2 separate regions of the Homo sapiens genome follow, and region 1 is linked to region 2. A link means that fine-mapping ties the variant in region 2 to the expression of a gene that starts in the linked region. Tissue or cell type: neutrophils. Region 2 holds a variant in brackets; the other region holds the start of a gene. All regions are shown on one strand. Distances are between the middles of the regions.

Region 1 (5,000 bases), 55 kb before region 2:
GTTGTAACTGGCCAGAGAAAACTCTCTGCTTTAAAAGAGCTCATGTGATTAGGTCAAGCCCACTTGGATAATCTCCCTGTTTTAAGACCAACTGTGCTATATAATGTAATCTGATTATGAAAGTAAAATCCCTTATAGTCACAGCCTGGGGATTATGGAGAGTGTGTATATTCGGAGTGAGAAATCCCGGGGGACATCTTAGAATTCTGTCTACCACAATAGGTAAGAGTTAGACAAGCACTGATAGCTTTCTAGGTGGGAAAGAAATGTGGAGAAAAGCTCAAAAGTGAAACTCTACCAGGAATTTCTGGAGACTGTGAATATGTCAGTTTGTGACTGCTCTAATAATGATAATGGTTTCTTTTACTGAAGGTCTCCTAGGTGCTTTACAAATTCCCTTACATCAGCTCTGTGACGGTGCTATTATCCCACTTGCCGGAGTTATATCTCCATCAAGTTGTGAAGCTGGGGTTCTGGCTTGAGCTCTGGATGGCTCTGAATTTATGCTGTTTGCACTGTTTAACCTGCCTGTCTGTGGGTCTAAGGTGGGGAAGCTGAAGGCAGTAAGGTTGGTCTGGACCCAGATTGTGGAGGGCATTGGTGTTAACACATGCTAACAGGCACCAAGAAAGATTTTAGAGGGAGCCAGTGAATGTGGAAATCAGGGGGACGGAAATGGGTATGATTATGGATGTTGGGGAGCACATGGGCTGGATGTGCAATGTGATATTCTTTTTGGGAGGTTAATATGGCCAGTCAGGCATTAAAGATGATTACATGATCAAGCCTCTGAGTCTTCCTGCCAATCTGTAGGAAATATATAGTTCAGAAGAACAAGTTAAACTACACATAAATATACAATCAGCAAAGTGGGGACAGGGTGAGGATTTAACAAAATCATACACTTTTTGGGAGGCTATATATACTTTGGGAGGCCATTTATACTTTGGGAGGCCAAGGCAGGTGGATTTCTTGAGTCCAGGAGTTTGAGATCAGCCTGGACAACATGGCGAAACCTTGTCTCTATCAAAAATACAAAAATTAGCCGGGCGTGGTGGCATGCACCTGTGGTCCCAGCTACTTGGGATGCTGAGGTGGGAGAATCACCTGAGCCTGGGGAGGTCAAGGCTGCAGTGAGCCGAAATCACACCACTGCACTCCAGCCTGGACAATCGGAGTGAGACCCTATCTCAAAAAATAAAAACATAAATAAAAATAAATAAAATAAAATAATTTTTAAAATAAAAAAATCATATCGTTCCATCACTCAACTTTTTTTTTTTTGGACAGGGAGTCTCACTCTGTTGCTCAGGCTAGAGTGCAATGGCACGGTATCAGCTCACTGCAACCTCCACCTCCCAGGTTCAAGCAAGTCTCCTGTCTCAGCCTCCCGATTAGCTGGGATTACAGGCACCTGCCACCACACCTGGCTAATTTTTGTATTTTTAGTTGAGACGGGGTTTCACCAGGTTGGCCAGGCTGGTCTTGAACCCCTGACCTCAGGTGATCTGCCTGCCTCAGCCTCCCAAAATGCTGGGATTACAGGCGTGAGCCACCGTGCCTGGCCCCATCACCCAAATATTTATACTATTAACACAAAGTAATGGGCAGAGAAAACAGCTGTGGTGGTTGTGGTAGGACTAGACAAAAATTTTCATTTGATGTGAGAATCTTTTGCTTGGAGGCATTACTGAAAGTGTTTACCTCAGAATGGGAAAGCTTGGGCAAAAGCGAATTTGAAGTAAGTAAGACGTTTGGAAGATGTCTTTTTTTTTTTTTTTTTTTTTTTGAGACAGAGTCTTGCTCTGTCGCCCAGGATGGAGTGTAGTGGCGCGATCTCCGCTCACTGCAAGCTCCGCCTCCCGGGTTCACGCCATTGTCCTGCCTCAGCCTCATGAGTAACTGGGACTACAGGCGCCCGCCACCACGCCTGGCTATTTTTTTTGTATTTTTAGTAGATACGGGGTTTCACCGTGTTAGACAGGATGGCCTAGATCTCCTGACCTCGTGATCCGCCCGCCTCAGCCTCCCAAAGTGCTGGGATTACAGGCGTGAGCCATCGCGCCCGGCCTGGAAGATGTCTTATACAAAGCGTGAGGGAACTGGATAATTTGGTCTTACCTATCAAAATATAAAATGCATATACTTTTGCGTTTTTCTCTTTCCTGGTAGGCATTTGCGCTAGATAAATACACAGATGCACAGCACAGGGGTAAGTACAATTCATGCAGAATTGTTTTTTAATAGTGAAAACCAGGACCCAACCCAAGTCCATGAGTAGGAAATTGGTTCTGTAAATAGTTTTATTTCATGCAATGGAATATCATGCAGTCATTAAGAAGAATGAGGTAGACCTCTACCAGCAGTGAAAGATAAGGGCATTTTAATCAAGGGCAATCATACCTAGTTCCAGGAAAATGTTTATTAATCTCATTTAGTTAGAAAATATATATGTAGAAGTGAATCTATAGACAAGTCTAGAAGGCTACACACCCAGCTGTTAAACAGAATGTCTTTGAGGAGGGCAGGGGGCGGAGTCTGCGTTTACGTGAATGGGACGCTGCTGTTTCTCAGTGCACCTCTGCTGTTTGAATCTTTTACTAAAAACCTTCCCATGCATTGCTGGGAGGGAATGGAAGGAGTATTTTGAGGGTTTCGTGTGAAGGGAAAAGTTGAGGAGGGGACGTGGGAGACCCCTTGGTCTCATCAAACTCTAGCGCCGCTTGAGGTGAGGAGACCCCGCCCCGCTGAGGTGATTCTGCAGAGGGGCGGAGCCCCCCAGATCCGAGGCGGGAGGCGGCCCGGGGGCGGGACCAGCCGGCTCCAGCGGCCCGCTCCGCTCCCACCATGCCCTTATAAGGAGCGCCCGGCGTTAGGGCTCGGGAATCCGGTAGCAATCCCGGCGGCTCAGCCCCAATCCCAGGCCCCTCCCTTAGGAATGGGGGAGGGGCGGGGTTTGGCGGCGCGGTGGCTGGGGCGGAGCATCTCGAAAAGGGACCAGTAGGAGTGGCGGCCCAGGTCTGAGCTGCGCTGCCATTGGGCGCGGCGACGAGAGGGGGCGGGGAGCCCGTGAGGCTGGTTACGCCGAGGGAAGCCCCGACTCCGTAGTCGCTGCACAGTCTGTCTCTTCGCCGGTTCCCGGCCCCGTGGATCCTACTTCTCTGTCGCCCGCGGTTCGCCGCCCCGCTCGCCGCCGCGATGCCAGTGTTTCATACGCGCACGATCGAGAGCATCCTGGAGCCGGTGGCACAGCAGATCTCCCACCTGGTGATAATGCACGAGGAGGGCGAGGTGGACGGCAAAGCCATTCCTGACCTCACCGCGCCCGTGGCCGCCGTGCAGGCGGCCGTCAGCAACCTCGTCCGGGTGAGCGCGCAGGGCCTGGCGCGGGAGCGGGCGCGGGAGGTATCCCCGGGGCCCCGGCCCGCGTCGCGGCTGCCTGTGGCCGGCTCGCTGGCCGTGGCTTTCCGCGTGGGTTCCGGAGCCAGGCGCCGAGGGTTCGAATGGCCTCTTCTCCGCCCTGTGACCTTGAGCGAGTCCTGAGCCTCTCCGGGCCTCAGTGTCCTCATCTATAAAATGGGAGCAGTCATGAAAAAGGCTGCCTTGCGGGCTTGTCGTGAAGATATGGCGAGGTATTATTCGTGGAGTGCCTCGCGCGGCGTGTGGCCCACAGCAGACACCCAATAAATGAGAGTTGCTGGGATGTCCGAGGGTCCCTGCCCCGCGCAGGCTTCGCCCCCACGTTGACTTCCTCGCTCTCAGCGCCTTTTAGGCCTCCTCGATCTGGCTGTGCGGGGGAGGGAGAGCGGGCCTTCCCACGGATCCCTTGCCTTCTCTTCTAGGGATCCTTATTTGAGCCACGTTGTCCTCCTTTCTAATACTTCTGCCCCTCACCCTGAGACCCGCCTCGCCCACCCCCGCTCCCCAGAGCTCCCTGTATTCCGCCCTTTTATTCACTTGCCTCACTCTCTGTCGCCTCCTCCTCCCTCCTGGGCATTTTACTTATGCTCACTCCTCTGGCACTCTCACACCTTTATGCAGTCATTCGTGACCACAAGCCCGGTTTTTCCTTCCGCTCAGCCCTGCTGCCCTTCCTTTCATTCCCTCCTGTGGACATTTTCACCTGGCGTTACCTGCTGTCAAACGGCCTCCTCCCACTGGGGCCTTTCTAGACTCGGGGGCCCTCCTTGGCCCCTCCTCCTGGCAGGAAGCAAGATGGAGCTGTTGGGAGAGGCCTGTGGAATCTGGGATCTGCCGCCCCTGCCGGAGAGAAGGCTGGGGCATCCGCTCCCCATCCACAACTTTCCTGGTGGCTCTGCAGACCCCTGTAACCCACAGCTGTGACTCATAACCGAGGTGATTCCTGGAGGAGGTGGAGCCCACGTCTGAAATGGGAAAAAAGAGGTGCTGAGACCAGTCTCCCAAGACTCCCCTGGCTAATGTCACACTTTTCTTTCCCACCCTGGGTGGGTGACTCAGACTGGTCCTGCTTGTGAGGAACAATTTTGGAAAAAGTTCATACTGCTCCCCCACTGAGCTGTGTAAATAGTGTGTGTCAGGGCAGTTGGGCGGCAACTGTGGGTCTGTCTGGGTGGGGCTTGGGTTACTTTTCTGATTTGAGCACTTTAGTGCACTTAGAGGCTCTTTAGCAGCTGAAAGTCTTCCTCAGTCTTCAGGGGTCCCTGGACTGTCTCAAGCAATTTAGGAGACTGGTAGCTAGGAAGACAGGGTGACACCACCGACCAAATTCCTGATCTTTCTTCTCTATAGCTTTAGTAAGAATCTATTCATTCAGTAAGAATGCTGTATTCATTCACAATGTCTACTTGTACATTGTTCTTCTTTTTATAACTAATTTGAACAGAACACTCCAGAGTACATTCTTATGTAGTGTTGTCTAACATGGCTGCATTCCAGGCCTCCATTTTTCAACAAATAGGAAACAATGTAAAGAGACAAGGTAATAGTGTCTCTCCATGTAGTACTTCAGGAAATGAAAT
Region 2 (5,000 bases):
AAAAATTGTCATTGCTGTATACAGTGGAATTTCATTCTTATTTCTGCAATGGAGCAGAAATGAATAAGGAAGGCAATTCTTGGACCTGATCCAAGGATGTTCAGAACTGAATGGATCAAAAAGCATCACTTCTGAGGTGGTCTTGTGATATGAACTTGAAAAGGGCATGGTGTACATTATCTGTTGGCAGGCAAATGACAGCTTTCATTTCGAACTGGACAGTGTTGTCACTTTCTGCCTTAGTGCTGCTCTGACAGTCTGCTTGAAGTCAAAACTTGGATTGGTTCACCAGCTTGGACTATTTTTGAAGCATACTGTAATGTCTAGGCTTATTGAATAAAAGAATGTTCCCAAAATACCATGTGAAAGGATGTACTACTGCTACATGATTGCCATTATTCACATTTCTTGGGAATTCTTTGTTTTAACCCTTAAACTTTATTAGTTAAGAACAGTTATGGTATTTACTTATACAAATTTACCATAATTTATATTCATGCACAAAGAAGAAATTTGAGAAGGATTAAAATATGCTTTATACTTAATTTAGATCTCTTTTGACCTAAAGTAATGATGTCACATTTTTAGGTCATCAGGCCTTGTAGCTTTTTCTTTGCTTGTGATCTTGAACACTCAAAATAATTTGTGATGAAATTTGTATTTTTAAACACACTTGTGGGTGAAAGTGCCCAGAATATCTTTTTTTAACAATTAATTACTTAATCATATCACTTAATACCTTTTGTTTGCCTGGGGCTAATGTGTGATTTGTGTGTGTGTGTGTCCTGAGTTTTGTGGTCCTTTCCACTGCTACAGTATTAGAAGATTTTTGTCTCTTAATGTGGATGCCCAAGTTCTGTGATGTAATCATTGACCTCTGCCCACTGCCTTGCTGCATTTTTGACCTAGAGCAAGCACTCAAACTTTAAATAGTTCACCTTTGGACTTGCCACATTAAGCATAATTTAGTACTACTGTATTTTTTTTTTTTTTTTTTTTTTTTTGAGATGGAATCTCGCTCTGCTACCCAGGCTGGAGTGCAATGGCACCATCTCAGCTCATTGCAACCTCCACCTCCCAGGTTCAAGAGATTCTCCTGACTCAGCCTCCCGAGTAGCTGGGATTACAGGCATATGCCACCATGCCTGGTCAATTTTTGCATTTTTAGTAGAGATGGGTTACACCATGTTGGCCAGGCTGGTCTCGAACTCCTGGCCTCAAGTGATCCATTTGCCTCAGCCTCCCAAAATGCTGGCCTATCACTACTGTTTTTTGTTTGTTTGTTTGTTTGTTTTTTGTTTTAGACGGAGTCTTGCTCTGTCATCCAGGCTGGAGTGCAGTGGTGTGATCTCGGCTCACTGCAACCGCTGCCTCCTGGGTTCAAGCAATTCTCCCGCCTCAGCTTCCCGAGTAGCTGGGACTACAGGCACGCACCACCACGCCCAGCTAATTTTTGTATTTTTAGTAGAGATGGGATTTCAGCATGTTGGCCAGCCTGGTCTTGAGCTCTGCTCAATTTCTTAAATACCTTGTATGAGCTGGGTATTTTAAGTTGTGTTATTTAGTCCACTTCATTTTTCAGATGAAGAGAAGCTCAGTAAGGTGTTGAAAGTTACTCAGTTCATACATGGCAGAGGTAGGATTCTAACCCTGAACTGTTTGATTCCAAGTATGCTCATTCCAGTATGCTAAGGTACTTTCTCATTCTTCTTTACAATAGTCTCTTCTTCTAACATAATAGTTATTGTGAGGTTTAAATGAGTGAAATGATATATGTGAAAATACCTAAAACAAACAAAAAGAAACATTTGGTGATTATGTTGCAGGACAGGCAAACCCCAAAACTGAGGTTTATCCCAAGAGGGTTCTTGGCTTTTCCTAGGAAAGAATTCAAGAGCTAGCCAGTGGTGTTAGCAACTTTTATTGAAGCAGCAGTGTACAGCAGCAGCAGCAGCAGCAGCAGAGGCATTTCTGCTGGCGGAGCAGGGCTACCCTAGAGGCAGCGTGCCCAGAGTAGCAGCTCAGAGGCAGTTCTGCATTCATATTTATACCCACTTTTAATTATATTCTAATTAAGGGGTGATTTGTGCAGAAATTTCTAGAATGCAAGTGGTGGCTACTAGGTTGTTCAGTTGTTGCCATGGAAAGGGGCAGTAACGTCTGGGTGTTGCCGTGGCAATGGTAAGGTGACCTATCACCCTGGTGGGTGTGTCTTATGGGGAGGTGCTTTTACCCTGGACCTGCTTTAGCTAGTCCTCTATGTGGTCCAGTGTCCACGCCCTGCCTCTGGAATTGAGTACTGACTCCTACTTCAATTACATATTAGCTCCCTTCTATAGCTTCTTTTTTTTTCTTCTATAGCTTCTTAATTTTTGTTTCTTAATAATTTTCTCCAAATAAATGATTCAATTCTTCAGTTA[G/GT]TTTTTTTTTTTTTTTTTTTTGAGACGGAGTCTCACTCTGTAGCACAAGTTGGAGTGCAGTAGCGTGATCTCAGCTCACTGCAACCTCCCCCTCTAGGGCTCAAGCGATTCTCATGCCTCAGCCCCGCAAGTAGCTGGGACTACAGGTGTGCACCACTACTCCCAGCTGATTTTTTGTATTTTGGTAGAGAGGGGGTTTCACCATTTTGCCCAGGGTGGTCTCAAACTCCTGAGCGCAGGTGATCTGCTCACCTTGGCCTACCAAAGTGCTGAAATTACAGGCGTGAGCCACCGTGCTTGGCCCTTCAGTTACTTTTTAAGCTTTTCTCAGAGATATTTTTTATCTAATTTGTAGTCTTCTGTAGTAAGACTTTTTTTTTTTTGAATTGGACCATGATTACTTGTTTTTATTTAATGCCCTTTCTTTCTGTATCTGTTGAGTGGATTACACAATTTTTATCCTTTACTCTGTTGAGATAGTCTATGGTTTACTACATGAATATAGATTTGCTGATAATGAACCATTCTTGCATTTCTAGGATAAACCCTACCTGGCTGTGATGAAAAAAAAAAATATATATATATATATATATAGTGCTGAATTTAATTTGCTAATATTTTAAAAGGATTTTGCATTTTTGCTCATGAGGGACCTTTATCTGTAATTTTCTTTTCTTTTTATGTTCTTTTCTAGTTTGGGTATCAAAGTTATTTTAGCTTCATAAAATAAGGTCTTTTTCTAGTTTTTGAAACAGGTTATGTAAGATAAAGATTATCTGCTCTTGAAAGTTTGGCAAAACTTGCATCTAAAACTCCCTGTATCTGGTGGTGTCTTTGGGAGGAAGAGATATGACTAAAAAGAAACTCGCTCAGTTTTGTTTTATTATCTAAATCAGGTTCTAAATTCATTGTGAGTCAACTTTGGTAGTCTGATACTTTTCTAAGAAATTACCAATTTTATCCAACCTTCCAATTTATTAGCATAAAATTCATAATAATTATTCTTTTAAAAATCTCTGTTGTATCTAGTTATATCACATTTCCTATTCAGTATTGCTTATTTCTGCCTTTTGTCTTTTTTTCTTATCGCTCTTATTAGAGATTTATCTGTCTTACCAGCTTTTCCCACAAAGATCTATTTCATTAAATTCTTTTCTCATATTTATTATTTACTTTTCTCAAGTTTATTATTTGAATACCTTATTTTTAATATTTCAGTCTTTATGTTCAATCTTTCTTTTCTTTTTTCTTTTTTGAGATAGCGTCTTGCTTTGTCACCTGGGCTGTAGTGCAATGACATGATCTCGGCTCACTGCAACCTCTCCCTCCCGGGTTCAAGCGATTCTCCTGCCTCAGCCTCCCAAGTGGCTGGGATTACAGGTGCCCGCCACCATGCCTGGCTAATTTTTATATTTTTAGTAGAGACAGGGTTTCACTATGTTGGTAAGACTGGTCTCGAACTCCTGACCTCAGGTGATCCACTCACCTCCACCTCCCAAAGTGCTGGGACTACAGGCATGTACCACTTTAATTTTTAAATTAGAGAATTTAAAAATTCTTTAAAATTATTTTTTAAAGTTTTCAAAATTCTTTTTAATATCTTTTGTTATATTTCTAATATAATTGTATTGTACCCAAAGACATGGTTGGTATGATATCAATTCTTGGAAATTCTTTTGTTACATACAGCTCAGTTCTAGTGAGTTTTTATGTGTGCTTGAAAAGAAAGTATATTCTCTTTTGCTTGGGTATAGAGTTCTATTTATACTAATTAGGTCAGTATATAAATATTACTAGTCCAATTTTTTATAGCCTAATTTGTCTGTTTCAACTATCAGCTTATGATTGATATATGTTAAAAATCTCCTATACTAATTGTAGACCTGTCTGTTTTTCTTATAATTGTCAGTGTTAGCTCTACATATTTCAAAGCAATATTGTTAGGTGGTTACAAGTTTGTGATTCTTCTGGGTTCTGAATTCTGTTAATTATTTGTTGCTAATTATCTTTTTTTAGAATGACTGTTGATAGACGTTAGCCTGCTGTTGGCTTGTTTCTCCAGACTGTGTTCTTCTTCTTTTAATCTACATCCTAGTTTTTGCCAGTTTTCTTCATAAGTGAAAAATATCCTCTTATTGTATCTATCACTTCATTTTGTGTTTAGGTTGCCACGCCTGTAACTCTTTTATTACATTCTACTGTAGAACAGTGATTGCCTACTTTTTTTCAGCATAAGGACCTTTAAGTAATAATAGTGAAATTTTAGGCTGGGCGTGGTGGCTCACGCCTTTAATCCTAGCACTTCGGGAGGCCAGGGCAGGAGGATTACTTGAGGCCAGGAGTTCAAGACCAGTGTAGCCAACATGGTGAAATCCCGTCTCTACCAAAAATACAAAAATTAGCTGGGCGTGATGCTGCACACCTGTAGGCCCAGCTACTCGGGTGACTGAGGCAGGAGAACTGCTTGAGCCTGGGAGGTGGAGGTTGCAGTGAGCTGAGATCACGCCATTGCACTTCAGCCTGGGTGACAGAGCAAGACTATGTCTCAAAAAAAAACAAAAACAGAAAAACCAACAACAA

The links. PIP is the estimated chance that this variant, and not a neighbour inherited with it, causes the effect.
Region 1: it holds the start of VCL, and the variant in region 2 is fine-mapped to the expression of VCL in neutrophils (CEDAR, PIP 0.95).

The regions. Positions count from the first base shown.
Region 1 is chr10:73,995,010-74,000,009 of GRCh38, forward strand. VCL (vinculin) reads left to right here and starts at 3,107. Exons shown (of 22, transcript NM_014000.3): 1 at 3,107-3,366. The coding sequence starts at 3,199. RefSeq lists silencers at 2,716-3,075, 3,406-3,455 and enhancers at 3,136-3,335, 3,408-4,059.
Region 2 is chr10:74,049,954-74,054,953 of GRCh38, forward strand. All of the region lies in intron 2 of VCL (vinculin), which reads left to right. Among named protein-coding and RNA genes, the nearest start is that of VCL, 54 kb to the left of the region's middle. The variant G/GT (reference allele first, on the strand shown) is at 2,421.